Regions from separate parts of the Homo sapiens genome. Here all the other regions are linked to region 3. The links come from fine-mapping of genetic effects on gene expression. A gene starts in region 3. Each other region holds a variant in brackets. All regions are shown on one strand. Distances are from middle to middle.

Region 1 (6,810 bases), 35 kb before region 3:
TTTGACAATATGCCTATTGCTGTGGGAGACAGTGGCTGTAGGAGAGACTGGTTAGTCTACATGACTTATACATTTGCTTTTGCCTCATTTCAAAGCATCATTAAAAATTAGCCACAAAGATAAACAGGTTTGAATAATTTATTGGCAATTGTTAAGTATAATGAAATTAGCCAATATTTCTTGATCTCTGCAAAGTTATTTTCTCCAAAGAGTTAAGGACAGTTTATTTAAGTCTTATGATGTCACAGAAAATAGGTGGGAGTTGATATGAAAAGCTGAGGAATAAAAAAATTCATTAAATGAATATAATGAGACAGTATTTCAGTATATTAATATGAACATTCCCGCTGCTATATCACAGAGAAATGAACTTAGTAGACAGTTTTATATGTCATTTCTGTCAACACATCTCATGGACGATGTAAACTATAAGATCTAACCTTTGAATAATGATTATTTACTGATTATTATAGACTGATGAATAATTCTGTAATTTAAAAAGAGAAAATGCTGTCATGAACACACTTATTGCTTAGGAACTTTGTTTCTAAATGCCAGTCCCCACCGAAACGAATTGGGGTTCTTTGGCTGATTCTATGACTGGGGGAGATGAATGTACAAGATGAGCCTGGAAGGCCTCCTTGTGCAAGATAATGAGGAGATGCTCAAACACTGAAAGAGATACGTTAAAAGTAGACAGGGGTCAACTTGAATGGACTCCCACTGGTCAAATCTGGAATAATATGAACATTAAAATAAATAATGATAGCAATGGATTATAACCTTTTGAATCAAACAAGAATCCATGAGTTCATATGTGGGGAGAGTGTGTGAAAGCAAAGCTGTCTTTTAAAGTTGAATGCCAATTAATAAATGTAGAAGGAATAATGGAGGTAACAAATCATTATTTTGCAATCATAGTAATAACTTATTTGGAGAGGAATAATCAACAGATGCTGAAATTAGTGGGTAAAAGTTGGATAAAAATAGGTTATTTACATATTCTCAAAGTAGAGCATCCTTAAAATTTCTTATTAATTACAAAAGGGAAAATTACCATTAAACCTAGCAGACACCACATTAGCCAAGAGATCAAAGTTAACATAACCAATAATGGGACAAACTGAAATCCTGTACCCACTGAAGTCATGCTTTGACAAGAACACATCACTTATATAATATTCTTGCTCCAAATGCATAGTTTGAACCTAGTTAAAAATGAATATTAAAAATATAAATCGATGGCTATTAAATTTTCCTGTATTCTTCAAGCCTGTCAATGTTATCAAAGGCAGAGGCTTATAACCAATTATGTACTATTAAACAAGATTAAAGAAATATGAAACAAAATGCAATTCAGTTTATCCTACAAAGAATATCATTGGGACAAATGATGACATTTGGATAAGTTTTGCAGATTATATAATTATGTTGTATAACTGTTAGATTTCCTGATTTTATAATTTTTCTGAGATTATATGAGACTTTCCTGGTTCTAAAGAAATATACATTGAAATATTTAAGAGTGAAGAGTAAAATATATTTAACTTACTCTCAAAAGTTTGTATATTTATATGAGATTATTCATATGTACTGTATGTCTGTATATGAGAGAGAGAGAGAGAATGGTCACTCTGGGTAAAGTATATTCAGGAATTCTTAGTGCTATTATAACTTATTTGTAGATCTGAAGTTATTTCAAAATAAAAAGGCTTTCAAAAGGCTTGGTGTGAAAAAAGAAAGACAAGACCTATCATGTTTAGTCACAAGGTATATCTTGGAATACTAACATCTGGAAATTTGGATATTTTGTGAGATATAAAGAATAGTATTATGCATGTGTTTAGTGGCTTCTAAGCATCTTTTTTTTAACTTCAGTCATTTAACTTTATCAATTTCAAGATTCCTTCAAGAATTGAATAGTAATATAATTTGGTTAGGGATTTTGTCATTTGCTTATAAAATAATGAATTACATAATACTCATGAACTCTCCCAGCTACAATGCATTTATAAACCAGAATAGAAAGTAGTTGTTAAAAAAACAACAACGTCCAAGATGCTGGGGATATAAAAATATTGGAAAAACAGCTTTGTCCCTCAGTTAGTCAAAGTTTAATATGATGGTGGTGATGGATAGATATATATGTATGCAATTAATAGCTACCAAGAGATTTCTTGGTTTGTGTGGTTATGTAAGTATAAACAAAATGCTATGTATATATAGTACTGGGAAAGTGCTATGGAAAAACAGGAATGTAAGAAGTTAATTATGAAATGAGCTTTTAGGAAAGCTTCTCAAAAGAGTTAACATTTGAGCTGAGCCCTGATTGATGAGTAAAATTTAAAGAGCACTAAAGATCCTAGGCAAGTGCCAATACAAACAAAATCTTTAATAATGTTACTAGAAGGAAAGCTCTATGAAGGCAGAGTCCTTGTCCTGTTGCATGTGACTGACATATAGTGGGTGCTCAAAAAATATTTGTCATGTAAATGAATAAATAATAAAAATGGCATGTAAACAATCTGGTTATTGAGAAATAGTTCACTTTCTTCTTGCATGGTTTAGATTTGGTGGTGGTGAGGACATTCTTTTCAATTATCCTTGGAATAGCTAAAGAACATAGATCATTTCTATAATATACAAGTGTATGAAAGGTTTGTGTAAATATAATTTATTGAAATATCTGGGAAAAGGTATATAGAAAGAAATAATTATTAGAACCTTTAAATAATCTGCCTCTGATTTGAAAATGAACCAAAAAGAACTAGAAATAATTAAATATAATCTTTGAAATGTAAAACTCAATGGACTATCTAGGCAGTAGATTAGACACAGTTGA[A/T]GAGGGTATGAGTTAACTAAACAATAACCCGAGTGAATGACACAGAATGACACACATAGAGATGAAGAGAAGCTGGTGAAGGGGGATGAAAAGATTAGACAATATGGAGAATAGGCCCATAAGTAGGTATAATATAGGACTAATAGACTAATAGTTACAGGAGAGAACAGAATTGAAGAGAGATGAAGAGAGGCATGAAATATGGATTTTAGTCAAGAAACATCAATCTTGGCTTATCAATTGTAACAAAAAGTCCCACACTAATGTAAGATGTAGGATATATAAGATAAAGGATATCATGTGTGGGCAGATGAAGTGGGTACATGGGAACTATCTGAACTTTTTCTCTCAATTTTTCTGTAAACCTAAAACTGTTCCAAAAAATGTTATTAAAATAGATGAATAAATAAATAAAATTTGCAATGAGTTAAAGTTATAGTTTAAATTCAACCACATTAAAGGCAAAACCAAAAAGGGCTCATAAATTCTTGCTTGGCAAGAATAGAATGCATAAAAACCCAGGACATTAAAGGACTGTTAAGTTTAAAAACATTAGCATTTGTGAATATTAAAATCCTATTGCATTAGAGAAGCGTGAATGTTGACAGAAGCCCAGTAGAGTATGGAAAGAAGAGGCTTGAAGGTCAAAGCCCATTTTTAAAAGCCAAAAATCATAACTAAAAAATAGTCACTATTATACACCTTATATGGGAGTGTAATATTTACTCCCCGCAACTCCAGTCAAATTAAAGCCTGCTCAAGGAGCCATCTATAAGAATAAAGATGGTGATCATTTTTCATGGCTCTTCAACACTTAACCCAGCAAATCATATAACTCATCTCAAAATGGAGAAAGCCCTTGTTTTCAAAACGTGGTGCTCATCACTGCCTTTGCTCACATTTGAAATCAAGTGGCTCTGAAAAGGACTACGGTTTACTCCATCTAAGGGTAGCCACTGAGATCTTTGCCCTAGCTTCCAAAACATCCACCCTTGCAGGCTTCCAAACAGCTACCCATTGTCCTGGAACCCAAGGGCGCCACATGTGAGCAGGAGTCAAGTCCTGGCACATCACAGAATCTGCAGCACTCTGCCTCTTTCTCAATGTGGGGAGGAGGGTTAAACACCCAGTTGAGTGGGAAGGCACCCATTTCCCTTAAAGCACCAAGCCTCACGTATGTGCAACCTGTGCAGCTTGCATAGGGCCCCGTGCTTAGATGTACCTGTACGTGATTTAGTGCTCCGCTGTTGCCATCTTGTAATTCTTAAACCTTTTTTAAGGGTCCCACATTTTCATTTTGCACTGTCCTTTGAAAATTATATAGCTGATCCTGCTCCCATCTCTTATTTATTATATAATATACTAACATAATAATAGACTTTAATTCTCCCCAAAGATCTAACCAAAGTTTGCCAATGCTGGTGCCCACAGGGACCAAACAATGTGTAAATGATTGAAGCAGTTGTGTCAGGGAACCAGTAGGGGGTGCTGGGTCTGGGGTGAATAGGAAAACAAGTCTTATCCAAAAGGAGGAGCTAGTACTTGAACGGCTAAGTGTTGTCCTGTGGGAATGTGAGACGGCTCCAGCCAGATCTTCCAATTAAAAAAACACACACAAAACAAACTAGAGATGCGCTTTATAGTTTTAAATATTAAATCATCATATTTTAAAATGTTGATTCAATTAGAAAAAATATACTCCATGTGGGCCAAACAAAACATATCTGCTTGGCCATAACTTGGACAAGTTACAGCTTATGACTTCTGGCCTAGAACCTCAAAAGCAAAAGCATGTTCCTTAGTTTCCCTCCTTGTTTTTCAATAAGGTTGACTTCATTTTTCCTCTCTCTTTTAGAACACAAAAGCAGTTAACTTGTAGGTGATATGAGGAATCCAGACCGTAGGAATAAATGCTTGCCTTCATCCTGAAGGAAGGAAAAAAATCATTTTATTTTGGATGGAGCCACTACAATGAAAACAAATATAATGCCATTCTCAATAGGCAGGTTATGGTGTGTATTAAATTATTACTAAACTGCTGTGTTTCAGTTATTGATATTGGTGATCAGGCATAAATAAAACACATAAATAAAATAGTTGTGTGTTGTTTAACAATAGAAACATGTTCTGAGAAATGGGTTGTAAGGTGATTTAGTCACGCAAACATCACTACTGGGCCTACATGGTGGAGCCTATTGCTTCTAGGGTACAAACCCGTACAGCATGTTAGTGTGCTGACTACTGTAGGCAATTGTAACACAATGATAAGTATTTATGTATTTAAACATATCTAAACATAGAAAAGGTACAATTAAGATATAGTATAACAGGTGAAAAATAGCACATCTGTGCAGGGCACATACCATGAATGGAGCTTGCAGTACTGGAAGTTGCTCTGGGTGAGTCACTGAGTGGTGAGTGAATGTGAAGGCCTAGGATGTTCTGTATAAACGTATTACTGTATAAACTTTATAAACACTGGACACTAAGACTACACAAAATTTCATTAAAAATGTTTTATTTCTTCAATAAATTAACCTTGGCTCACAATGAACATTTGGTTTATAAACTTTAATTTCTTAAAACTTTTTGACTCTTTGGTAATAATGCTTAGCTTATTGTACAGCTGTACAAAATATTTCTTTATATCCTTATTCTATAAGCTTTTTTATATATTTTTTTTAACATTGGAAAAACCTTTTTGTGAAAAACTAAGATATAAACACACACATTAGCCTAAGCCTACACAGGGTCAGAATCCTCAGTATCACTGTCTTCCTCCTCCACATCTTGTACCACTGGAAGGTCTTCAGGGGCAATAACACACATGAAGCTGTCACCTTCTATGATAACAATGCCTTCTTCTGGAGTACTTCCTGAAGGACCTGTCAGAAGCTGTTTTACAGTTAACATTTTAAGTAGTATACCCTAAAATAATGATAAAAAGCATAGCAAAGACACAAACCAGTAACATATTATCAAGTATTATGTATGCACTGTACATAATTATATGTACCATACTTTTATATGACTGTCACCACAAACGTGGGTAATGTGTTGTGCTACAGCTTTACAATGACCACATCACTAGCAATAGGAATTTTTCAGGTCCATTATAATCTTATGGGGCCACCATATCGTATATGGTATATGGTCCATCATTGATGATTAAAATGTTATGTAGCTCATGAATGTATATTAAGGAATGTTAAGGAGTGAATGGGATTCAATGTCTTCTTAGGTTTATGGCCAGCACCTGGTGTCTCCTCTCTACTAACCTTATATAAACAGATTATACTATACTATACCTTATATAAACAGATTAGGAAGCAGCCCCTCTCTTCTTAATTCTCATTCATATATTCAGTTTATGGAATCTTTAAAATACATAGTTTTCTTGGAGATCAATTTAAATGAATGAAGAAAAGTCAATGAGCCTCTTAGATTTTAAAACTGCAGAATGTGTTGTCATTTCACCACAGGATAGGCTCGTTCCACCTGCACTCTCTCTTTCCTACTGTTATTTATAACTTTTTTTTTTATTCATTTATCTTCTCTTTTCATTTACTGCACTGCCAGGCAGATACTTTCATATTCTGTCCACCAGACTAGAAGAAATGCTCCAGGCATTCCGACACTGTGAGTTCCCTTTCCTGCCCAAATTTCCTTCCCAGAAGGACTGCTGTATATGTTGGTAGATAAGAATGTGCACTGCACAACTTCGAGTGCCACTGACATTGTCATCTAGGGGAATGTTCCCTCCCAAGTGGTACAGAGTTCAACTTACATAGCTGAACGAGTTGCCATGCTTTCCTGGAAACTGCCTTAGACCCAATGGTAAGGACTATAACTTACCTAAGCTCTTGCTTATTCTCCTATAAAGTGTACACATGAAATCCCTGGCACAGGTACACTGCAACATCTGTTCATGTGACCCTTTTTCTTTTCATTAGAAAAATCTTCAATTC
Region 2 (6,810 bases), 830 kb before region 3:
TTGAGGATCAGAGGTAAAATGATTTGCAAAATGAGTAAGTGAAAAACTAGGACTTGAACCTGGCTCTGATACCAAAGACTGCTCACCTGTTCTACATTACTGCCTGGAGTGAAGGAGAAAGAAATATGTGTGGCAAAAATGGAAATGGCTATGGCCATTTAGAAGAATAGTTCTGCCAAGGACCCCTTTACAGAATTATCCCACTTCTACAAAAGACTCTGATATAGATACATTTTAGTTATAAATTTTGTTACCATACGTGAGGATACAGCATTGGCCATAATTAACTGCTGCTGTTATAACTTTGTGCATTAGTGGCAGTTTTGTGAGGCTAGCTGAATTTTTCGTTTTACCAAGAGCTTGATTGTTCTCTCTAGACTTCTCTTTGTCTCCTGCTGAGATCTTGTTAAACATTTTGAGGATGAACTAATCAGTGTTTTGCATCCTTCCAATAAGGCGAATGCTTTTGTTTTCAGCATAATTTAATGTGAGAATATTCCGATGAAAATAGATTGAAGACTCCTTCACCAGTTATGGTCGGGAAAAGTAGGCTGGCATAGTGATGGTTTTGGGGCAGGCAACCTCATTAATGTTTAACCTGGGGAAGAGACTTCAGATAAATGTTTGTAATGGTCAACAACTTATAGATTATTTCTAATCATTTATTTTCTGATTCTCAACATTAATGGTTCTAGGTCATTTGCAGATATTAAAATTCTACCATGGCACATGTTTATCTGTGTAACAAACCTGCACATCCTGCACATGTACCCCAGGACTTAAAAATAAAAATAAAAATAGGCCGGGCGCAGTGGCTCACGCCTGTAATCCCAGCATTTTGGGAGGCCGAGGTGGGTGGATCATGAGGTCAGGAGATCGAGACCATCCTGGCTAACACGGGGAAACCCCATCTCTGCTAAAAATACAAAAAATTAGCTGGGCCTGGTGGTGGCGGTCACCTGTAGTCCCAGCTACTTGGGAGGCTTAGACAGGAGAATGGCGTGAGCCCAGGAGGCTGAGCTTGCAGTGAGCCGATATGGTGCCACTGCACTCCAGCCTGGGCGACAGAGTGAGACTCCATCTCGAAAAATAAATAAATAAATAAATAAATAAATAAAAATTAAAAAAAAAGTAAATAAATAAATCAGGGTTGCAGAAGCCATGGAGTTAAAGATCATGGGTCCTAACTTCTCAGGTAAAGAGCCAGATTATTCATTCTATTTGGTGATTATGTAAAATTAATTACAAAGCTTTTCTCTGAGTAGAAAAATAAAAACGATTGCAAAAAAAATCCTTTTGGGGGACTTATGAGAGGAAGGTGATTCATTCTCAAAATCATGATACCCAAATTGATAAGCTTTTGATAGTGATGTTAATGCTTGAAAATCAAATTTGCTCTTTCTTTACCCCAGTGGATCACTTCGACATAAATTAAGAATGCTTAATTTGAAATTAATTCTCCCAATGAAGAAACAATTCTAATTTTCCTGTAAACTGCTTCTTTGGGTTTAGCACAGTAGATTACAGTAGTTTTTGTTTTCACAGGTCAGTCTAGCCCATTTGATATTGATCAGCATATTGCAACTTGTGACAAGGAGCCAGTGTGTATTTGTACAGTGTTCTGATGTATTTGGTGAAAATGTGTTTTGATGTCATTGATGGCAAGAATTGTCACCATCTAAATATGTAGAGAGGGGTAATACACCAGTTTTCTTTTTTCTTTTTTCCTACATGCTAGAGGCTACAGATTTTAAATTTCAACAGTATAATTCAGTTTTTACCCTATATTCTCTATTGCTAATATGAATCTTTTCCAATATAACTTTTTGAAGACAGTTCTTACGATTTGCTTTAAGACAGAGCTGGAAATCATAAGCTTTTTGTGTGATTTTCAGACACCTGTTTGAAAACTGATGGAGTCAAATGCCTCAATATATAATGCAATAGAACAACTATGTTATTTGCACTTATTATGTGGTTTAGGATAATGCGGTCTTATAAATATAACAATTTCATTTACATTTGATACCAAGACCACGGTCTTGGCTTGTCTTTTATAGGAGACTTGTAAGTTCCTCTAGAACAGTATAGAAAACCATGTTCTAAATTATTTGTTTAGCTATCTGTATAATTTATTTTAAGGTATTCATTTAGTCATTCTGAATTTTTTTACTATTATTTAAAAATAATATGTAAAAATAATTTTTCTAAATGGCATTAAATATAATATCTCAACTGGGATGATACAGTAGAAAATTTCAGCCAAGATTTTGGCATGCAGAGTATGTAGAGCAGACAAAGTACATGTTTTACAGAATGGTTTCTGAATAAGACCCTTTCTTGTTTAGGTGTGACACATTTACTCATTTGAAAAAAAAATATCTACCCTTATCTTTTCATCATCTTCTGATACTTTTCTTCAGTGTTAATATGCTAGTAAGGAAATGGGTCCTGAGCTGTTAATCTCTGTAACTGCTTAATTTAGTTTTACATTTCCCACTAAAACAAAACTATTCTTGAGATTTTCTGTGAAACTCAATTTACATCCCAAATTCTTTTATTTTCCTACCAAAGGAGGGATTCTTTTATATCCATACTTTTATAAAGAGTTCTTGTATAAAACTACATTATGATGATATTAAGATATATGTAATCTATATTTAAAATCCACAGAATGTAATGATTGCGTATCAAAGAGAAAAGGTAAGAAACATTTCAGTAGCTGAAAGAAACACAAACTAACCTCAAGCAGACCAAAACTTTTGAAGTGTAATATACAAGTGTTTTTGTAAAAATGTCAGTGTTTTTCCTTGAACTGTTTCTTGAGTTGTTTCACATATTGAGGATTACTATGGTATCATGACAGCTAGAACAGAGTATAGGAGCAAAAAATAATAGACCACTAAGAAAGATAAGTGATCACCCATTTGAAAGAGAGACTGTGAGAGGATACAGATCCTGAATTGGCATAAGGTAAGGATTAAGGAAAAATTACTCAAGACTTAAGAGACGAAAATTATATATATTTTTTTGTGACAGAGTCGTCTCACTCTGTTACCTGGGCTGAAGTGCGGTGGAGCCATCATGTCTCACTGCAGACTCCATCTCCGGGCTTAAGCAATCCTCCCCCCGAGTAGCTAGGAGTACAGGTGCAGGTCACCATACTCGGCTAATTTTTGTAACTCTTATAGAGATAGGGGTTCTCCATGTTGCCCAGGCTGGCCTTGAACTCCTGGGCTCAAACGATCTGCCTACCTCAGCCTCCCAAAGTGGTATGATTACAGGTGTAAACCACTGCACCTGGCCTAAAAATTATATTATCTTAGCAATTTCTTTAAAATTCTCACTTACAAAAATAATAAGAAAATTGTAGAAAACCTGGTGATATAGTTTTTGGGTTTATTTCTAAAAACAAAATGAAAGAAGTCTAAGAATTAAAAACATTTTCCATAGAGGAGTGCTGATGGATCTGGGGTAGAAAAAAATTCAAATAATAAAAAATCTGGGAAATACTAGTATTTCTTATATGACTACCTCCAAGAAGGAGTTCATCAAAATTTTATCAAAATATCCTAAAATTGTGTTTCTTTTAATTTTTTAAATTTATTTTTTAACTTTTATTTCAGGTTTGGAGATACATGTGAAAGTTTGTTACATAAGTATACATGTGTCACAGGATTTTTTTTGTACATATTATTTTATCACCAAAGTATTAAGCCCAGAACCCAATAGTTATCTTTTCTTCTCCTTTACCTCCTCCCTCCCT[C/T]CCAAAATTGTGTTCTTATAACAAAAAATATTACATTAATGATGGCTTGATAAAAAGTACAACTGCATCTTCAAATAAAATTTTCTCATTTTGCTTATTCCAATGCAAATCAGATTATAACTGTCACTCTATGGTAAATTACAATAATAATACACAATGAATTTAAAATAACCATAGTTTAACAGTGAATGATAACCTCAAACATGTTTGCTGACCAAGTTGAAAATGCCAACTCTTATTCTGCAAACAGTAGAGATAGGGTTATCAGGATGTTGGAGAGATTTTGTGAGATAAAATAGTTAAAATGTAAAAGCATTTTATTTTCCTTTTAATTTTATTCAGCCAGCAATTGTAGGACTCTTCCAATGCTTCCTAAATGTTAAATGCATTCAGTGTTTATTGAATACCTATGATATTGAAATATTGAGGACCTACAGTATTGAATGTTATAGGTGTTAGTGACATAGGAGTGAAAAATACCAAAGTTCCTTTCCTCATAGTACTTGTACTCCTCTGGGAAGAGACAGACAATAATAAAAGTAAAATGACAAATGCATGTAAAGTATGCCAGTGGGTATTAAATACTATGAAAAAAAGTCAGGGTAAGAGTAATTTGAAAAAACAACTACCTTATCCTCGTTTCTTTGTAATGAAATATTTCTATTCTTGTCCTTCTTTTGTCATGAAATTTACTAATAATAAGCTCTGAAAGTATACTGGGAGACTCCATGTATAATTACACATAATTGATTTCTCCACTTTTTGACATATTACAAAGGACAGATTATGATTCTAGTAAATTTGTATCATGCAGAGAAAAGATTTCAGATAAAAGTGATCCATGAAAATAGAGACTGACATCTTGTTTCCTTTAAGAAGCCACAACTAAATAGCTGGCAAAGTGTTGAATTACCCTGTGGACACATGAATGGGAGTCTTGGCGAGAAGTAGTTTTAATCAGAGGTAGTTTTTAACCTTATTATTAGGACTTTTACATCAGATGTAGCTAAATAGGATGAGGTACATAATTTGTTATCAACATAGTTAATGTATTTATTGGTATTTATTGGTATATACTGAAAACATACCTTTAAAAGGTAACTAAATTAGAAATCTGAGTAAAATGTCAACTGATTTGCAGATATAGTAGGTGATTCGTAATAGGTGATTAATAAACATCTTTTTCAGGGACAAGCCTGTTTCAGTGAGTAGAAACTGAGCTTCTTCCATCTCTGGAGGCACTGGCTGAGTCTTGGGGCACAGGGAGGCAAAGGACCAAATCTGCCACAGACAAAACTTTACTGGGACAATTAGAAACCAGGCAATTTTTAAAGTGTACTTTTGTAAAAACTGCTTTATATAATTCCCATGCTATACCAGTCAACTATTTACAGTGTCCAATTTCATTTTTCTTTTATGATATTCACAGAGTTGTGCAACTATCACCAGAATATAATTTTAGAAGATTTTGTCTCCCCTAAAAGAAACCCAAAACTCATTAGCAGTCACTCTCCATTCCTCCAACCTCCTGCCAATCCTAGACAACCACTTATCTACTTTCTGTCTCTATAGGTTTGCCTATTTTGGATACTTTATTCAGACTTTTAGTGGCTAAATATTATTCCATTGTATGAAAATATACCACATTTTGTTTTTCATTCATTTCTTGATGGACATTGGGTTATTTCCACAGTACATCTATTGTTAACGTAGCTACAAACATATTTGTACAAGTTTTTCTATGGATATATATTTTCATTTCTCTTGGGTATATACTTAGGAGTGGAATTGTTGTATCATATGGTAGTTCTACCTTTTTGAGAAACTGTGAAACTGCTTTCCAAAATGTCTGAATCACATTACATCCCCATCAGCAATGTATGAGGGTTCCAATTTCTTCACATCCTTACCAACAGTTGTTACTGCCTAAATCTTTTTGATTATAGCCATTCCAGTGGCTGTAAAGTGATATCTCAGTGTGGTTTTTGACTTGCATTTCTCCAATGACTAATGATAAACATCTATGCATGTGCTATTGGCCATGTGTATATATTCTTTGGATAAATGTCTCTTCCAATCCTTTGCCCATGTTTTACTTGGCTATTTGTCTTTTTTATTGTCAAGTTATAAACTTCTTTATATATTCTGGATACAAGTCTCTTTTTAGATATATGACTTGCAAGTATTTTCTCACATTCTATGGGTTGTCTTTTCACTTTTCGGATTGTATCATTTGGAGCACAAAATTTAAAAATTTTTAGTGAAGTCCAAGTTATATAGTTTTTCTTTTGTTGCTTATGCTTTTGATGTCATGTGATAAACATTTGAATGTGTATGCAAGAAGCATATACTCTGTACTGTGAACAGTGCATATAAAAATCTTGAATGAAATGTCATCCCAGTTCAGATACTGCCTTTGCCTGTTGCTCACTAGGTGAAATGCAAAGTTCTCAATATACTACTCAGTGCTTCCAAGTGAACTATCCGATATTATCAGATCCAATATTTGGTGCTAACTGACCATGATAGCCAGAGCTTTCCTTTTTATGTCCCAGCCAATTCCCTCAGTCATGGTGCATTTCCAGATCTGTGCTTTTGCTTGTGCAGTTCCTAGCATTTAGGCTGTTCTGCTTTCCTCTTGTTTGTATTCTGTAAATCATTTAACACCCTATTCCAGTTCTGCTTCTTTTTCCTTTACTGCTCATCATGATTTCCTATTACGCTTGACTGAGCCAGACACTGAGTACCTATTAGGAACTGTTTATATATATATATAAAGTACTTTAACAATTACATATATATCATTTCCATATGTGTATATATAGATATACAAACTGTAGTTTCTAATAGTTTGTACATTTCCACTTAACACTTTAAGAATATATACTCTTATTGTTTCATGGTTTCATGTTAATAAGACTTTTCTTAGTAGATAACAGGCTTCTTGTGAGCAAGTCAATAGCTGCACTTCTACCACAGTGCCTGAAATGTGGCAGATGGTCAAGAAGCATTTAGTGTTGGCTACTGTCTGAGACCTTTTGGAA
Region 3 (5,914 bases):
TATTGTCACCTATGCCGTTTACACATTTATAATACTTCCTTGGTCTCTAGAGGCATAAATTTGTGACCTCTGAATTAGACTTTAGATGTAGTCCTGAAGGATGGAGCTAAGACTGAAAGGTCAAAGTTTCATGAAGGCAAACATTTTAATATTAACTTAAATTGAACAAATGTTTATTTGCAAAGTTCTATTAGGTACTTTGGGTATACACAGAACCTACCCCTCAAGGACACTGGAAAGGGGATGCAGGAAACCACATGAACAGAAATCACTATACTCAAAGTAACTATAATTTATACGATGGATCCACAAGAGACTCTGCTGTCTGCCCTTGGAACCGGGAATTGCTATGCATGTCCTAAATAAATATTTTGACTTCATTGTATGACTTCGGTGATGGTGACTTACGTATCTGACATTGTGCTGGCTACTCTGAATCTTAGAGCCAAATGTATGGCCCACTTCTAGCAACTTTACAGGATCTAGTGGTGGGATTGGCAACTAATGCCATCGCTGGCTTCATCTTATCTATATTTTCTTTATCCAGATTTTCCCACTTTTTATTTTTTCTTGTGTTGCCTGTTTGTAAGTTGCCCCAAATCCTTACTGAAATAAGGCAGATTTTAAAATAAACCATAATACGAGGTGTAAGATAAGAAATAAAAGTCTAACCAGTACAGAAGCAGTCATTACTTCCAAGTAGGTAGTATGTGTTTGTGGGTTCAGGTGGGAGAGGGGAGTTTTGGGAATCATGTCTCAGATATGCAGAGATAGGAAAACATTTCAGGAAAAAAACCGCCAAAAAACATGAGCAAAAGCAAGTAAATACAAGATGAAAAGAACAGTTTAGTTTCAGTAACTAGCTAAAGATGAAGAAAAGCAATGAAAAAAAGGTTGAAAGGTATACTAGAGTAAGCATTTGGATTTTCTGATGTAGAAAAATGTGTAATAAAACATAGCATAGGTGAGAGATAAGCAGAGTTGCAATTTGTCAAACATGGTTTGGAGAAGAATAGTTAAGTGGCTTGTTAGAGAACCATTGCAAAAATCAAGGCGAGACAGAGTTATGGAAATGGGGCAAGAGAGAGTTTGTGGGCAAGAATGCCATTGCTCTGAAGGTGATGGAAGTGATTTAAAAATGAACAGGCCCTGCTAACTTGAGAGATCAGCAAATAAATGATCAGTCAATAATGGACCTAAAGAATGAGCCTAACAATGTGCTGTCTTCCATGCTCTTAAGCCAATACTACGAATAAAATCAGTACACAGCCAACTTTTACAGTGCATGGGCCAGGCACAAAGCCAAATATTTCAAAAAAAATTATCCTATTTTCTCCACACAAAATCCCTATAAAGCAGATACTTTTTATTATCCTCAGTTCATAGAACAGGAAGGGGCAGAGTTGAGATAGCTTTCCTAAGGTCACATAGCCCGTGGTTTTTAATCTAAGCAGTATCACTCCCAAGCAGCCTTATCCTCAGGGGATATGTCCCAAGACCCCCTAGTGGATGCCTGAAACCTCAGATCAATTTCTTTTTCCTTCTTCACTTCACAATTTCACTGACAAGATTCATTCTTTCCGTAGATCTTAGCAACCTCAGCATATGCTGTTTTTTCTTTCCTTAAGTCTTTCCTTAAGAACTTTCACCTTTTCACTTCAAAAAAGCACTTTAAAACTTACTGTTGGCAGATCCAAATCGCCAGCATCATTACTCCCGTACTTTGGGGCCATTATTAAGTAAAATAAGAGTTACTTGAACACAAGCACTGTGATACCACCACAGTCGATCTGATAACCCAGAAGGCTACCAAGCAGCTAAAGGGCAGCAAGAATATATAGTGGAATATTCTGGACAAAGGGATGATTCACCTTCCATTCTGGAAGGAGCTGGTTGGCTCAAGATTTTATCACGCTACTCAGAACAGCATGCAATTTAAAACTTACTAATTGTTTATTTCTGGAATTTTCATTTAATATTTTCAGACTGCTGTTGACTGGGGTAACTGAACCTGCAAATAAGGAGGTATGGCTTGTACAGCTGCTTCTTGATTTATGATGGGGTTACATCCCAATAAATCCGTCATAAGTGGAAAATGTAAGTCAAAATGCATTTACTACCCCTGTAAACCCATCATAAAGTTAAAAAAAAAAGTCTAACCATCCTAAATTATATACGATCGTACTTTTCTCTGCGTAAAACTACTAGAGTTGTAATAATGGAGGGGCTCACTAGGAGGCAGTAAACTCCTTAACACTGGTGATGTTCAAGCATGCAGTAACAATGATTTGCCAGAGCTGTTGATGAGCGGATTCCGGCATTCAATACCTTAGCAAGCTACAAAGTCTTTAGATTCCCTTAGTATTCATATAATAAAATCAAATTTTCTAAACTTTGCCACACAAGATAGTTCCCAGGTCAGCAGTTTCAACATCATTTGGGCACTTGTTAGAAATGCACAGTATCAGGCCCTACCCTACACTTAAAGAATCGGGATCTGTATTTTAAAAGATGCTCAGCTGATTAATAGCCACGTTAAACTTTTAGAAGCACTGATCTAATCCCCTAAATTTCACATATAAAGAAACAGAGACCACCCCTCAGAGGAGCAAACACAGACATGCTGGATCCGGTCGTCACTGGATGGGAACAGGGCTCCTGAAGTTTCGCACTAGAAGGCAGGCGATGGACAGGCGCAAAGGGGCCTCACCCGGTCAAGGAGTAGGATGCGGCCAGCGCAGGAGCTGGTGGTGAAAAACTGATCTCGCATGTTCAGAAACTGCACAAGCTCTACCACATCCTCGTCAACACTGCCCTTCCGGCTGAGGTCCGCTTTGCTCAAACATTGCGCCTTCCATTTCCTGAACTCCGCGCTGCGATCCATGGGTGACGGACTCAGGGTCTGCGCTCGGCTCCTTCATGGTAGCCTCGTCTCTCCCTGGGGGCAGCCATATTGAAGCGAGCGGTGGCCGAAAAGGTCCAAACTTCCTCTTCGTTCTTAATTTGGGAAATTCTAGTGCCTTCGCCTAGGGGTGGAGAGAGGCGCACATCCTGGGTGGAGCGAGGCGCACATCCTGGGTGGAGCCTGCAAAAGTTGGAGAAGGTGTGGCAGTCCTCATTTCTGTGGAATCTGAAGAAGCCCACGCAGATTTTAATTCCCACTCTAGATTCTGGTAAGTGGTTTTAAAAACTCTCCTTAGTTGTTTAGACAGCGAATCTCCCCACTGCTCGTCCAAGTGGAACCGAGTTTGATTTTGGCTGCACCCCTTTCCTGCCCTCTGTCCTCCCAGAGAACTAGTGCGTAGAGCTCCAGACCGAAGCCATTCCCCTCCAGGGGCTGCAAGTTCCCATCCATAAATCAGGTAGGAAGTTTTGCCTTCTGGTCCTGGGCTCCTAGCCCTGGTCCTGCGTTTAGGCTCTGAGTTTAGGCTACCACACCATGAGGTGTCCGTTGGCACTACCCCTGCCCAGCCTCCGCCCCCCGCACTCCCTGTCCCCCAGCCCCACGCTGCACCCCCCCCCCCCCCCCCCGCCAGTCACCCGCTTGATTTTTCCCTGCAGCCAGTGCCTGGGTTTGGGGATTCCTGCAGCAGCGCCCAGCGGTCTGTCCAGGGCCCCTTCCCACAGCCCAGCTCTCAGCTGTAGAGGATTTGTCCTAGGTAGGGCCCCTTCCCACAGCCCAGCTGTAGGGGATTTCTTCTCCTAGGTAGGGCCCCTTCGCACAGCCCAGCTGTAGGGATTTGATTTCTTCTCCTAGGTAGGGCCCCTTCCCACAGCCCACCTGTCAGCTGTAGGGGATTTCTCCTAGGTAGGGCTCCTTCCCACAGCCCAGCTGTGGGGGATTTCTTCTCCTAGGTAGTGCCCCTTCGCACAGCCCAGCTGTAGGGGATTTGATTTCTTCTCCTAGGTAGGGCCCCTTCCCACAGCCCACCTGTCAGCTGTAGGGGATTTCTCCTAGGTAGGGCTCCTTCCCACAGCCCAGCTGTAGGGGATTTCTTCTCCTAGGTAGTGCCCCTTCGCACAGCCCAGCTGTAGGGGATTTGATTTCTTCTCCTAGGTAGGGCCCCTTCCCACAGCCCAGCTGTGGGGGATTTTTTGTCTTGGATTCCCACAATTACAGGTTTCCCGGAGCTTCCTCCAGCTTTGCCATCAGGATTGCAGTCTTTGAGAGAAATGTATAGTTTTATTGACCCTGTGACGCCCACCACCTAGAATAATCTTCAAAAGAAAATTACAAAACACCCTGTTAACACATCGTTGGATGTTTATACTGAGTTTCTAGAGGAGACTCAGTGACCAGGGAAGGTGTGTCAATGATTAAACCTAAAGGCTAAAGTTTGGAATGCTTGTCCGTAGCTAATGGAAATTGTTGTGCGAGTCCCTCTGAAGCCACTGTGATTACGTGTCTGGTTAGCGCAGCGAGTTCAGCAGCAAATCTCTCCAAGCTCTACTCCTCCAGCATTAGGGAACAGACTGCCCTGTTCCATACGATCATGGAACCTGGAGGAGTCCGAAATTATTAAACTCCTCCCCTCTTCTTACCCCGTCCTATCTCAAGTGAACAGAAGTGACCTGATAAGATCACACAGCCAGGAAGAGACTTTCTCTGACCACTTGTAATTCTTGCCTTTTTTACATTTCTGGGTTAATAATAAACCATATGCTTACATGAGTCATTGTGTATTAGCAGCAGAACAATTTGTAATGATTGATTTTTTTTCTAAGTTTTCAGTTTTTAAAATTCTTGCCAGAATTCTTATTTAATTTTACTTTTGCTCTTGTCTCATAATGTTCCTTTGCTCTGGCTTTGTGACTTGATCTGTTCATCCTATGTTAAAATATACTCCTAACATTTTCCCAATTCCTTTAATTTTCGTTTAAATCAAATGGATACAAGCATAGCCAGGAAAAAGATCACTGTTGGAAGAGGGATTTTAGATTTTCTATTTCCTAGATTTGTAAGGCATATTGGCAACCTTTCAGAGGTAAAATTAAACCAAAAATTAAACCAAGGGACTCTTAATTTTTAAAAGTTTATATTTGATAAACAGGAAGGCCTATTTGAAGTATAGTTTAATTAAAAAGCACAAGCAATGGAAAGGCCTGTCCTGTTCACAAGGATCCGATGCTAGGGAGTAATTTTTTTTTATACATTTTTAAAAATAGAATCATGTCCTTTGTATTTCTGCTGCATTCCCTGACTTAGTGGGCATTTGAGAAATTTCAAACTCTAAGCAGATGCCTTAGTCATAAAATATGCGATTCTACCTGCAGGTTAGTTTGATTTCACATTTTCTAGCTCAATCTGTCTCACTATCACTATTGTAAAGTTTATTTCTACGAAGTAAAGGGTCTTATATGCCAGCATCTCAAAGGGTGAGATGAAAAGGATGGTAAAGAAAAAAATCAGCTAACACCATTTAATTACAGGACTTGGGTTCTAGCTTTGCTTCTGTGTGACCCTGACCAAGTCTCTTAACCTCTTGTGATGTTTTCTCATCCATAAAATGGATGGCGATTTTATTTTTACTTCTGCATAAAATAATAGTTTAAATAACTTCTCTACCTGTTCTGAAAACAGTTAAGTCAATGGAGGTGGAAGACTTATGCTTTTTAGAAGAAATCCGGTATTACAGGATTTTAAGTATTATCCTATTTGCCATCAGTATGCCACGTTATTTTATTCTTTGTGTAATCTCCTTTGACAGGCTTCATCGTTATGAAGCATATGATGATCCCGTGGATAGGTGAGTTCAAAGGCAATGAGTGCAGGTTGGAGCCTGATGAATCAGAATGCTAAAGGCTCAGTGGGAGATAAGATCAACAGAAGCAAAGTAGGAGATAGTGTGGTCAGGCCATGCCCCATCACTTTCAAGCCTGATAGGATAATGTAGTCAGATAGTACTGGGCAAAG
Region 4 (6,704 bases), 25 kb after region 3:
TCTTTGACCCCAACTGCATTCCCACCTCGCCAGGTTAGCCATGGCCATTCACTATGCCCACAGCATCCTCCACGTGGCTGACCGGATGTTCTCGTGGCTTGTTCCTCACTTTTTTCAGGTCTCATTTTTTCAGAGTGGCTCTTCCTGATGACCTAAATAGCCCCTATTCCTGTCTCTTTAACCCAACAGCCAGTCTTATTTTTTCTTAGCACTTTTATTTCCTGAATTTATTTTATTCATTCATATGACTATTATCTTCCTCCACCCTTAGAATATAAGTTTATTTCTTACATTAAGTACCATGTCTAGCACATCGTAAACACTCTATAAACATTCACCATATGGATGAATTAGTTAATTTGCCCATATACCTATCTCTTCTACTTAAATGGTGGAGGCCTTACATTTGTTATTTAGAATTTCATATGCACAAAGAAGTCAGAGAGCATGTTCTGATCATCTTTAAACCCTGCAAACATCTTGATGCAGTGGTTAAAAACTCAAGTTCTGCAGTCAGACTGGTCTAACTCCTGTTTCCATCTCCGCATATGACTTGGCCAAATTACTTATAATTTGAAGCTTCAACTTTCTTATCTGTACAATAGGGACAATAATAGTATCTACTTTATAGGGTCATTGTGAGGATAGAATAAAACAATATGTAGAAATTATTTAGTATGGTTCCTGGAATATTTTAAATGCTCAATTAAAGTTAGCTGTTTTTCTTATTTCTTCATTTACACTCTTAAGTTCCTTAAAGTTAGGGTGGGTCCTATAGGAATCTTAAGTTCATTGTATGTATTTAAGTGTTTACAGGAGTGTAGAGAATATATAACTCTTGGGTTATATTTGTTTTTCAGGTTGGATTAGCAGCATGCCAAATTGCTAGAGCTTATGGCTTAAAGATTTTGGGCACTGCTGGTACTGAGGAAGGACAAAAGATTGTTTTGCAAAATGGAGCCCATGAAGTGTTCAATCACAGAGAAGTGAATTACATTGATAAAATTAAGGTAAAATTTTCCACTGTTTTACAAAAGTCAAACTTTGTTCCTTGGAGACTTGCGTGGTTTTTTAATATGTTTTTAACCAACTACTCCTTTAAAGCTGTTTGCTTCCTTTTTTCAGTGCGATGAATTTTTATGCGTGTTTTAAAACTTTATTTAAAAAACAGATGTCTAAGTTTTAAACTTTTACTATCATTTTTGTATTGTTTATGTGTATTAAATAGAATATAGCTTCTCTAGAATCTTATAGCTATAAAAATTGATTTTTTAATGCAAATAACATTCTAAGTAAAGCTGCAGCTTTGTATTTGCAGCTGTGAGGTATTCTTAATATAATTTCTACTGATGTGAATTCTCCATGGAAGGTGAGATATCTGTAAATTACAAACTGGATCTGTGTGGCCCAGGGAATAAAGTTCATTTGTTAGCTGGATGCTTTGGAGGAATAATCACTACTGCATCCAAAATGGTGAGGTGGCATTTATTTAGTTGCTGCATTTAACAGAATTCAAGCAGATTCTGAAGTTCTTCACTTGTACTATATTAGCAATTTGCTAAACACTTATTGCTTTGCTAATCCTCAACCACTTCCTCACGTTAGGGAGATTAGAATTTCCCAAATATTGAGTACTGTGTAAATTAGATCATTACAAATGAAGGAAAAAATAAGAGTGAGAGTTTATTACCTTTTTTGCAATCATCTTGCCAAAAAGCCGAACAAAAGCACTCCTTTGTTATACGTCTGGGGAACCTAAGATCTAGCACTGCTGATACCATTATCCAAGAATATTCACAAAGATGAAAAATGGCCCGTTATTTTAAGAGTATGGTTTTTGTTCAGCAATAATCTAATTTTAAGACCATGAGGTCTTGGGAGCTTCCACTGACTCCTTCTGCTTAAGTCTCTCCCATTCTCAAAAACATTCTCTTAACCTTTATCTTACTCCCCTTTCTCTTCTCCTCTTTCCCACAAAACTTCTTGAAAAAGTAGTATTTATTGCTTTTACTTCCTTACCTTCCACCACTTCTCACTGCAGTTTTGCTTATAGCCCAAGTATTTATACTGCTTCCCAGAGGTCACTGAGAAGCTCCTAATTAACAGTCTGCTGGTCTTCTTTCAGTCTTCATCTTGTTTGATTTTTCAGGAGCATATGACCCTGACCACATTTCTTTGAAACAGGTTCTCTTCTTACTTTCCTGACTTTTCACTTTCAATCTCCGCCCTCTTCATATTATTTAATATTAATATTCCTTAGGTTGTTTTTGCTTGGTCTCTCATCTTCCCTGGTGCTAGACTTTCATCCTGATCAGTCTCATATACTCTTGTGGCTCCCTTACTACCCATATACTGTTGATTTCCAAAACTGTCTTTGGCCTGAGTTCACTTCCTTCATGCCATCAACCCGCTAGACATTGCTACTCATCTGGTCGCCCAAGACAGAAACCCTCATTTTGTTTGTTTTTCCTGTCTTTTAATTATCATTCTCCCTCCCACCCAGCAAGTTGGTTACCTCATTTTATCAGTTTCATCTCTGACATGCCTTTCAAATGTATTTCCTTATCTCTATTCCACTGACCACCATAACTTAGTTTAGGCCTCAGTTTCTCCAGCCTTGACTGTTATTCATAACTGAGCTAATACACCCTTTTATCTATGCTGTCATCTCCCTCTTAAAAAAGATCTCCAGAAATAAATAAAATGGAAGCTTTATGAGGAGAGGAGTTTTGTCTCTCTGTTCCCTACTGCACTTGCACATGCAGTAATAAACCCCTGTAATAAAAAAACAAAACAAAACAACTACAAAAAAAACCCCACACAATCCAAATCCTTTAATATGGCATTCACTGTGTTTTCACTATCTGTCCCAACTTACAGTCTCCTCTCTCCTACCTCTTCCTCTCC[T/C]TGCCACTCCCCCTTACCTGATTATGTACTTCAGTTCCTCTTGTATTTCAATCCTTGTGTTCTCAGTCCCCTCCATCTTTGCTTTTCTGTTTCTTTGGTCCAGACTGACTCAGCCTCAGGTCTAGCTTCCCCTTACTCATTTTCCTTTCTTTTGGCTTGGGAAACTCCTATTCATCCCTGAGGGCCCAGTTCATCGTCTCTGTGGAACTTTATCTGACCATGGCAGGCAATCAAACCTTAACCTTTTTTCTCTGTATTCTATGATTTATTTCTGCTAATGTGTTACTTAGCCCATTACTTTATAGCTATGACTGTAGTATTTCCCATCTTTCTCACTAGTTTTGTTTTGAGCTCCCTATGTTTGTATTTGTATTCCTGGTACCTAGTGCAATCCCGGGCACAGGGATTCATTTGTGTGTGTGTGTTAAAATAAAATGAATATAATGTAGATGTGTGTAGCTTTTTGTAAGAGCCAGCGTCCAACATCCAAGAGCCCAAAAGAGTTAGTGCATCAAACAGATGATAAACCATTTAGAACAAAACCAAATGCACTAAAACAACAAAAATCATGCAAAACCGAACAGCTAATGATATCTTCTTTTGCTTTTTGTTTATTAATAAAAATGGGAGCCCCCTGGGGGTTTGGGGCTTTTGATTTATTGTTTCTTTATGAAAGTTTATTTTACAGATAGAAAATTTTCAGCTAAGTATTTTATACTCAAGTTGAGTCTAGCACCTGAAAATTCCAGACAAACTTTATTTCACTACAGCAATGTATTTAGTACAAATTTTTATCAGTTTAGATGTTCTGGCTGGTACCTTGGAATTACATCGTGATTATATAATTAGATTATTTAAAATTTTGCATTATTAGTCTCAAAGATGTAGCATTTATATATCATTTGAAACATATTTCTATAATATCTTGTACAGATAGTAGCTATTTTACAGTTTTTCACTTGCTATCTTACTCTACATTTCTCTTTTATTATATAGAAGTATGTTGGTGAGAAAGGAATTGATATAATTATTGAAATGTTAGCTAATGTAAATCTTAGTAAAGACTTGAGTCTTCTGTCACATGGAGGACGAGTGATAGTAAGTATTCCTTTTCTTTTTTTTTTTTTTACCACTTTAATGTTTTACCACAATTTAACACTATTTTACAGTAATCTTTAACTGTAGAATTGCTGTTTTTCATGTTAGGTTGTTGGCAGCAGAGGTACTATTGAAATAAACCCACGAGACACCATGGCAAAGGAGTCGAGTATAATTGGAGTTACTCTCTTTTCCTCAACCAAGGTAGGAAAAGAAGTACTTCTGATTTTGGTAACTTAAACATTGGTACAGTTTGCCTACTCAGGCAAGCTGAAAGTTTGAATAGATGTTAAACTTAGTTATATGACTAGTGGGAGTTGGTAAGGATTAGTCACCAGAAGGACAACTAGGGTGACAGTATAATTTATATCCAGGTAAGCATACCTTTTGAGATAGAAATGTGATACTAGTAATAATTTCAGGACAACAGGTATTTTGTACACTAACACTGTCTCAGGCAGATGGGATTTATGGTTACCCTGTAGATAACTACTTTTTCTATAGTTCTGGACAAGTTGACAAAAGTCACACATTTGTAAGAGACTCTTCATGGTATAACACTTAGATTCTGAAGTGTTTTTAATGCTTCTGAAAATTAAATCATACGGTTCACTACAAAAAGAAATTTGTTTTTCCTTTTCTTAGGAGGAATTTCAGCAATATGCAGCAGCCCTTCAAGCTGGAATGGAAATTGGCTGGTTGAAACCTGTGATAGGTTCTCAATATCCATTGGAGAAGGTGGCCGAGGCTCATGAAAATATCATTCATGGTAGTGGGGCTACTGGAAAAATGATTCTTCTCTTATGATGATTAATTCTTTCATGGATTTCCTATGTAATTAGAGGTACTGTCTTTCCCCCAGTTGTACTTACCCTATCTTTTCTTTAATTAACATTCGATTCCATGAGCTTCTTATGTGAAAAAATAAGATTTTTCTTTAGAGAGCAGAAGCAGAAGAGTAAAATTTATTGTATAGCTAGCAATATTTTTTTATGCCATCTGTCTCAAATCAAAGAGTCATCATAGTAGGAAATAACATGTTAGTTGTCATTTGGCATGAGTGTGCATTCCAGTAATTCTTAATTGATATTTGATTAATTCCATACCTTTGATTAAAACATGCTAGTTCAAAATAAGACTGCTCAGTTTCCAAGGGTTTTCAAGCCTACTTACCTTTATAAAGGTTCTCTAGTCTCTGATTAGCCATGACTGTATTGGACTTTGAACATTTTCTGAACTAAAAACCTCTATTCTAAACTAATCTCATTTGGATGTGTAAGTCTTTTGTAAAGGCAAGAATAAATAATATCCAGGACAATTTATTAGTTTTCTCAGTATTTTCCCAAATATTAGAATATTTACTTCATTATTGGTTGGCTGCCAATGACCCCATATGTTCTGTGAGAATAGTAGCTTTATCTTTGATATAATACATAGTCTCCAAATAGGTAATACTTCGCAATTGATTAGATTTTCAGAGTAGATTTAGAGTTATCTGTTTTTCTGGTGAGGGTCAAATATTTTTGTTAATTAAGCTCACAAATTTGATAAATTAAGAATTATCTGCATTTGTCTCGTAACATAATAATGTGTAATAAAGTCTATAGAAAATTAAAACCTGCTTTTCTAGTTTTTATATTATTTGCCTCTCATCACTTCTGCATAGCTCCTGACAGTTACTTCTTAACAGTGTTCTATGCTGGAAGCCTTTATCTAAACTAAATACAGGGATGACCTCTTAGCAATCTTGCCATCAATATTATATTCAAGAAAATAAAAGTTCGGTTATTTGTTGTTTTTGTTTTTCTTCACATAAGCACATACTTTTGTCTTGCTACATTATGTGATTGATTGTTTTGACCTGATTTTTTCTGTTGAATGACAATTTCTGGCTTGAATATGGAATCCTGCTTCAGGAATAAACAGAAAACACCGCTAATTTCTATAGTTGAAGGATATCATTGGCTTCTGGTTGTATGTGCCATGGCTGAAGTGTTTTTTGCTATTAGCATTTTCAAGTTTATCCACTGTTTCTTTTACAGGTTAACTACCCTGTAAAATTACTTAAAAAAAAAGTGTTAAGGCAATGTCATCAACATAGGCTGGCATTTTATGTGCATCCTAAAATGGAGGATTCCTTTCCATGTAAACAAGGTAAAAGAATAATTATTCTGTAAAAGTCAGTTTAATCTGTTTGTATATTTGCCTCATCTATAGAAGGAGCTAAAGCATACAGATGACTTAACACTTCAAAATACATTGATACAGTTTAATTAATTTTGAAGCCAAAACTAGCCAAACTGTGTGCATTAACTACCATATTTATGATGTAGCACTGGGTATGTTCTCTGCATAAATCTCTGTGGTTTTAGTCTTGTCCCAACTTTCAGCCAACTGCATTCACTACTTGGTTGGTGCCTGTGGCCTTAGGGCTACTACATAGTCTTCAGTGCCCATTCTTGATGAAAAGTAGAGAATAACCTGTATAATAAACAAACATTGTTTAACTCAGTCTTTTGGATTTCTGTTCCTGGTTGCTTTGACTTGTGTGACCTAGTCATGTAATGTATTAGAGACCAAATTGGTCAGCACCCTGAGCCCAAAAAGGTGAATCAACATACCAAAGGTCACATGACTAGGAGATTCAAATTCAGCTGACTTTTTTGTGGGCTGTCGATATAAAACCATAAATTTAACTT
Region 5 (6,810 bases), 490 kb after region 3:
ATTAGTAAGCATGTCTATGTGTTTTGCTGCAGGGGAACACAGAAAGCAAGAAGGGTAGGAGGGTAAAAAAAGTTTGGGAATACTGCATTCCCATGGCTGTGAAAATAAACCACAAGGCTTGCCATTTCTAATTAAAGCATTTCACTGAGGTTCTTCAATGACCCTGGATTTAGAGCCTTTCTCTTTTTAGCAGTACCCTGGAGAATAGCACTTTTTCTTTTTCTATTTTAAAATTCCAATAGCTTTTGATGTTCTTAACTGGATGCCTTGATGATAATGTTCTGAATTTATAGTACCTTTCAAGTGTAAGTACTTTACAAGTGATATGAAACTTTGGCTCACTCACCAAATACTATGCTATCTCTCTAAAGCTGCTAGAGATTTAAATAGGCAGGAGGCAGCTTGAAATTGACCTGTGAAGCCAAGGATATGATCTCATTTCTACTGAAAAATGTCCTGGGAGCACCGTGGACCTCAAGAGGTCGAGAATTTTAGCTTTACATTCCTTTTGAAAGGCTACCTGTGGCTCTCAAGGGCCCTCCTGGGGCAATGGTCTTTGTTCAGACAAAGACAAGGATTTCATTAATAGAATCACTCCACTTCTCACCAGGGACTATATCAGAGTACCCTACCAGAGTTTAGACCTTTATCTGTGAAATCTGACCCAGTCAGAGTACAAGAGAACTTTGCTTCAGGCAGAAGTTGTAATACATTGGGATTATATTCTTTTTTCCAATATCTTATCAGATGCTACTTCCCCCCACCTTTCTTTTTGGAAGGATTTTCCTGAATTTCTCCGTAGATATTATGTGAGATTTTGTGTGTGAGTGAAATGAGTTTACTTTCAGATGTCTGTTTTCTATGTATACATAATTTTTATTCATCATGGTGCTCTGAAAAGTTTAAATTATACATAGAACACAGAACTGCACATGAGATTCTCTTATTTAAACTTGATCTCTCGAACTTTTAATATTACTACATTTTCAACAGTGGAGAGACTCAAAGAATGAAAAATGCAAAGGAGGGTAAAAAGTTAAAGTTGAGATGAAAATCACTTTATTTGAGAGGGTAAACTCAATTGCTTTCTTATTCTGTGATCTAAATTTGATGATCCATTCAATAAGTCTGGCACAACACCTGCTAAACACCTACTATACGCCTCACTTCTGCTCTTAAGGCTCACTTCAGGTTGTTTTCAAGAGTCTCCTTGATATAAACTACTCACTAAATCCCGGATCCTTTGAATGCATCAGTCCTGGAAATACACATACTAGATAAAATCCTGAAATTGACTGCTGTGTTCGTCCTGATATCTAATACTCTGATCAGCTTTGCAAAACAAATGAACATGGAATAAACAGAAAATACAAGATGCCAGGGTCCATTGCTTTATTTTTAAAAAAGAAAGGCACTAGATGAATGTTTATCATTTACATAAATAAAATTGAAAGCAAAATTAATGACTCTTTATTCAACAATTGTTCCTCAGCTAACTGAATCTTGAACTAGACTTTACCATCTATAAGTGACTCAGTATAGAGTCCTAAAGAGTTCCTTGCTTTAAACTGAGCCGCTGCTTGTTGCTTTTGTTCTCCTCTTGAATTATATCCTCCTTGAACTCATGCAGCTTCTCTTAATGTCAACAAAATGAATCAACAGAGAATAGACTCCTATAATATTTGGCAGTCAAGTGTGATTTTTAATAGTACAATTTTTAGCTCAACTTTAATAACTGGAATGTACATTTTTAAAATGAGAGTTACTTTGGGGGCTATATTTGAATCCTAATTCTCACTTCCCATTAACTTCTAGTCAAACGTTTCTGTTTTGAAACATGTAATTAAAATATTCAAGATATTTAAGCAATCATTCCTAGGAGAGAAATTCCATTTTCTCTTCTTTTGCCTCTTCTAAAGTAACTGTGTATGTCAAATTCACTGCCAATTGAGCATCACTTATGTATTCTAATACCCTAAGCTCAATTTATTTTTTAATTTCCCCTTACATTTTTCATCACCTGCCATGCCACACTGTAACTTAACATATCCTAAAGAGTTCATAGTGCATGCTGGGGCATGAATGAAGTTCCTAATTAAAATAAAGCCACTATTATGAATATATTTCTAATAGTAAATGCTGTTCTTAATCATTAAAAATGATAGTTCTGTACCCAAAGGTTACTTTCTTTCTTGTAGCATAATGAATTCTTTTCCTAGCCTTTACCTTTGACCTAGAAAAGTGTGCAGTTTTGTGATCCAATTAAACTTCTTTTTCATGACCTCATCCTTTCAAGAAGATATCTAACATGACCACAAGTGGGAACTTATTAAAATGTAACATTTGAACAGTTGGCCAAAAAGTAACACACTGCTCTCCAAGGTATTCAGACAGGTAGATATATTTTAAAGCTAATTCATTGGTTAAAACTTAGGGAAAAGCCAAGAATGTAGAAAGAAGGTAAGGATTTTTTATGGGTTGTCTAGTTTCCCAAATTGATCATTTAAGTTTCAAATGGCTAGTTGCAACTTCTTGCCTATTCATTGCAGATTCTTCCCTGCCCCATGCCCTCCAAACAATAGAAGCAGACTATATCAATAAGATCTGTTTCTAATATATATCTCCAAGAAATATCCAGAAATATATTTGTTTGATATCTTGCAAATAAAATCTGCAAACTAATACTGTGAAGTATATTCATTTATTCAGCCATTCATACAATAAACAATTA[TAGTTAG/G]AGTGACAGATATGATAAAATTGGCATAATTATTGTTATCTTATAAGATTGTTGTGAAGTGTAAATAAGTTAGAGCTTGTAAAGCTTTTATAAATATTAGCTGCTATAATAGTTATTTCTATTAAGGCATTGATATTATTTTTACTGTTTTTGTATTGTTTTGCTCTTCAAAACAGGGATAGGAAAGAAGGAATCATGGAGGTACAGGATGGAAAAGAAGAAGAGATGAAGGGTAAGGGGGAGAGAAAATGATAGAAAGATAGCGAGCTACAGATGGAGAAGGAGAGGGAGAACAATAGGGAGAGATAGAGAGAGAGAGGCAGAGAGAGATTGAGGTCAAGTTGCTTCTCAATGATTTCACAAGATATTCCTGTAAAATTATGGTTCTTAACTAGTTTTACCTGGACAAACAAGAAAAGAATTAGAGAAATAGACTGACTTAGGGCATTATGAATTCTTTGTTTCCTTTTGGATTTGAGGGTTTTTTTTGTTGTTGACGATTCTTATTTTTTGTTTTGTGGCTAATTGGCAAAACACACTACCAAACATGCCAAATAATATTTTCATTCTATGTTAATTATAAGATGACATTTCCCCTTCAATATCCTACTTAGTAGTTTGACAGAAAGGGTCTACTCCTCTTAAATAAGATCAGCTTGAAAAGTTTCCAGTGCTATTCATCTTATAATAGCCAAATTTCATAGTTGGCTATAGTGCAATAATTTTAGAAGATATTTTGTTTTAAGGATGAGTATAGTGGAATGCAACAGGCCTCAGATGAACTTTTCAGAGAGAAAAGGTACAAAAAGGTGTATCTCAGAAAACATTTTTTTATTTCCTCTATACATTGTGACTATTTAATGGAACAGAGCATTCTTTTGACCACTTTTTTGTACATAATTAAACCTAGTCAATTTTAAAGTGAGGCACTGTAATTACTGACCAAGATGTATCTACTCAATGCCAAAAAAGTTGTTTTGGATTATGTTGATGTCATAGTGTTTAAAAATTACAACTTTTCTGGGTCAGGCGCGGTGGCTCATGCTTGTAATCCCAGCACTTTGGGAGGCCAAGGTGGGCAGATCACGAGGTCAGGAGATCGAGACCATCCTGGCTAACACAGTGAAACCCCGTCTCTACTAAAAATACAAAAAATTAGCCAGGTGTGGTGGTGGGTGCCTGTAGTCCCAGCTACTTGGGAGGCTGAGGCAGGAGAATGGCGTGAATCCAGGAGGCGGAGCTTGCAGTGAGCCTAGATCGCGCCACTGCACTCCAGCCTGGGCGACAGAGCGAGACTCCGTCTGAAAAAAAAAAAAAAAAGGAAAAGAACTTCATGTCTAAAACACCAAAAGCAATGGCAACAAAAGCCAAAATTGACAAATGGGATCTAATTAAACTAAAGAGCTTCTGCACAGCAAAACAAACTACCATCAGAGTGAACAGGCAACCTACAGAATGGGAGAAAATTTTTGCAATCTACTCATCTGACAAAGGGCTAATATCTAGAATCTACAATGAACTCAAACAAATTTACAAGAAAAAAACAACCCCATCAACAAGTGGGCAAAGGATATGAACAGATACTTCTCAAAAGAAGACATTTATGCAGCCAAAAGACACATGAAAAAATGCTCATCATCACTGGCCATCAGAGAAATGCAAATCAAAACCACAATGAGATACCATCTCACACCAGTTAGAATGGCAGTCATTAAAAAGTCAGGAAACAACAGGTGCTGGAGAGGATGTGAAGAAATAGGAACACTTTTACACCATTGGTGGGACTGTAAACTAGTTCAACCATTGTGGAAGTCAGTGTGATGATTCCTCAGGGATCTAGAACTAGAAATACCATTTGACTCAGCCATCCCATTACTGGGTATATACCCAAAGGATTATAAAACATGCTGCTATAAAGTCACATGCACATGTATGTTTATTGCAGCACTATTCACAATAGCAAAGACTTGGAACTAAGCACCAACCCAAATGTCCAACAATGATAGACTGGATTAAGAAAATGTGGCACATATACACCATGGAATACTATGCAGCCATAAAAAATGATGACTTCATGTCCTTTGTAGGGACATGGTTGAAGCTGGAAACCATCATTCTCAGCAAACTATTGCAAGGACAAAAAACCAAACACCGCATGTCCTCACTCACAGGTGGGAATTGAGTACATGGACACAGGAAGGGGAACATCACACACGGGGGCCTGTTGTGGGGTGTGGGGAGGGGGAGGGATAGCATTAGGAGATATACCTAATGTTAAATGACGAGTTAATGGGTGCAGCACACCAACATGGCACATGTATACATATGTAACTAACCTGCATGTTGTGCACATGTACCCTAAAACTTAAAGTATAATAAAAAAAAAAAGAAAAAGAAAAAGAAAAATTATAACTTTTCTGGAGTATTCTCATGGTTTTAAATTTCATATTATAGATTAAGCAGATACAAATTTGGCTTGACAATGAAATTAGCAAAACATAGTCTTAAAATTTATTATGATAAAAACTATTGAAACAAAATAATTTAATTGAAAACATTTGAAGTCACATGTGGAGAGCCATCACTTCCATAGTTTTTTCAAAAAGGTTGTATAATATTCATAACCAAGATTATGAATATGATACATTTTGAAATCAAATAAAGATGGATGCAATCCTAGGTAAATCATACAAATTGTTTAATCTAGTTCAAGCCAGTTTAATTTGATTAGCCTCATTTTCTCCAGGTATAACATGGCAATTGCAACACTTACTTCAGAGGGTTGTTAACATAAACAATAATGATTAAGTGTTAACTAACATTTTTGAGGGTTTGCCATGTGCCAGACACTGTGCTAAAGCACTTTACATATACACCATTAGGATTATATAAGCTGATGCACAAAAAGATACGTAGAAGCATTTCTGGCATATGGTAAGCCCTAAGTTATTAGTTTGTTTTACAAATAAGTACAAATATAAATAAGGCTAAATAAGAAAAAAAGCTGCCTTTAATGAACACATATACTAGTGGGGAGATAGACCTATAAATGGATAAAAACAACACCATGTAGTAAGTGCTGTTATGTTGATAAAGATTAGAGGCAGCACAGAGGAGGATATAATCAGACAATGGTACTCTAAGGTGCCCTTTCTGTCTTTCTTTCTCCTCCTGCCTTCTCTTTTTCTTCATTTCTTCCTGTCACCAATCCATTACCTAAACAAATGTCCAAAGTTATGAGTGAATGCAACTTTATAGCAGAAGATGAAAGAACATTCCATTTCCATTTCCCCTCTCTCCCACATCAAGCTCCCATTCCAAAGCTGCTATAAATTGGCATAAGCAGGATAACTATTTAGCTCTTTCTGTCTTACATTTAGCACTATATTGCTGTTTATTATGTTGTGGGTAAAAGCTATGCCAGGAAGATTGTGTATTCGAGCTGATAGAGCAATGGTGTATTATGTGGTGAAAAATCTCTTATAATGAATGAAATTAGCATCTACCGGGAATGCCATAAAGAAATTGGTTAGCAAATGAAAAACTGTTTACATCAGTGATCCTTTACGTTTCATGCTAGTTTAAATGTTCCTTTTTGGGCATTGTATACAGTCTCCTTGCTATCTAAATGTTTAGAGAAAGGCTGATGTCAGGCAACATAACATAATTGTTTATCACAGGAATGCTCTTTATAAGACAAATGAATAAGGGTGAGTAATGAGATTCTAACATTTATTTAGCACCTATAATGCTCTAGATACTCATTTAAATGTCATTTCATACAGTGTTAGGTTTGATCTTCCCAACTACCTTTAAAATTTTGTGAATGAGTGAGTAAGACAATTTACATTCTCAGCACACTATTCTTTTCTTTCTTTCATCCATCATTTTATTCCAAAGAAAAGAAAATCCTTAGAACTCTGCCCTGGAAGCAATTCACTTTTTTCTCCCAGATTATGCTCTCTACCTTGACGAAATCAGACAAAAGCAGATTATTCTGTTTTTGCTTGCTTGTTTTTGATTCTCTTGACTCTCTTTAGACCACACCAGTTGCTTACTTTCTGTTCCCATAT

The links. PIP is the estimated chance that this variant, and not a neighbour inherited with it, causes the effect.
Region 1: its variant is fine-mapped to the expression of CRYZ in unexposed skin (GTEx, PIP above 0.99).
Region 2: its variant is fine-mapped to the expression of CRYZ in prefrontal cortex (GTEx, PIP 0.98).
Region 4: its variant is fine-mapped to the expression of CRYZ in lung (GTEx, PIP 0.91).
Region 5: its variant is fine-mapped to the expression of CRYZ in spleen (GTEx, PIP 0.97).

The regions. Positions count from the first base shown.
Region 1 is chr1:74,765,211-74,772,020 of GRCh38, reverse strand. It overlaps TYW3 (tRNA-yW synthesizing protein 3 homolog), which reads right to left. Exons shown (of 6, transcript NM_138467.3): 6 at 5,344-6,810. Among named protein-coding and RNA genes, the nearest start is that of TYW3, 35 kb to the right of the region's middle. The variant A/T (reference allele first, on the strand shown) is at 2,843.
Region 2 is chr1:75,558,912-75,565,721 of GRCh38, reverse strand. The region is part of intron 1 of SLC44A5 (solute carrier family 44 member 5); the gene reads left to right. Among named protein-coding and RNA genes, the nearest start is that of SLC44A5, 49 kb to the left of the region's middle. The variant C/T (reference allele first, on the strand shown) is at 3,767.
Region 3 is chr1:74,730,215-74,736,128 of GRCh38, reverse strand. CRYZ (crystallin zeta) reads left to right here and starts at 3,079. Exons shown (of 9, transcript NM_001889.4): 1 at 3,079-3,173. It overlaps TYW3 (tRNA-yW synthesizing protein 3 homolog), which reads right to left and starts at 2,977. Exons shown (of 6, transcript NM_138467.3): 1 at 2,711-2,977. The coding sequence starts at 2,884. RefSeq lists enhancers at 2,363-2,462, 2,843-3,132, 2,687-3,397, 3,993-4,282.
Region 4 is chr1:74,704,404-74,711,107 of GRCh38, reverse strand. CRYZ (crystallin zeta) reads left to right here. Exons shown (of 9, transcript NM_001889.4): 6 at 861-1,010; 7 at 3,904-4,005; 8 at 4,114-4,209; 9 at 4,651-5,622. The coding sequence ends at 4,812. Among named protein-coding and RNA genes, the nearest start is that of CRYZ, 25 kb to the left of the region's middle. The variant T/C (reference allele first, on the strand shown) is at 2,908.
Region 5 is chr1:74,239,099-74,245,908 of GRCh38, reverse strand. All of the region lies in intron 4 of FPGT-TNNI3K (FPGT-TNNI3K readthrough), which reads right to left. The region is part of intron 2 of TNNI3K (TNNI3 interacting kinase); the gene reads right to left. Among named protein-coding and RNA genes, the nearest start is that of TNNI3K, 7.1 kb to the right of the region's middle. RefSeq lists an enhancer at 44-695. The variant TAGTTAG/G (reference allele first, on the strand shown) is at 2,732.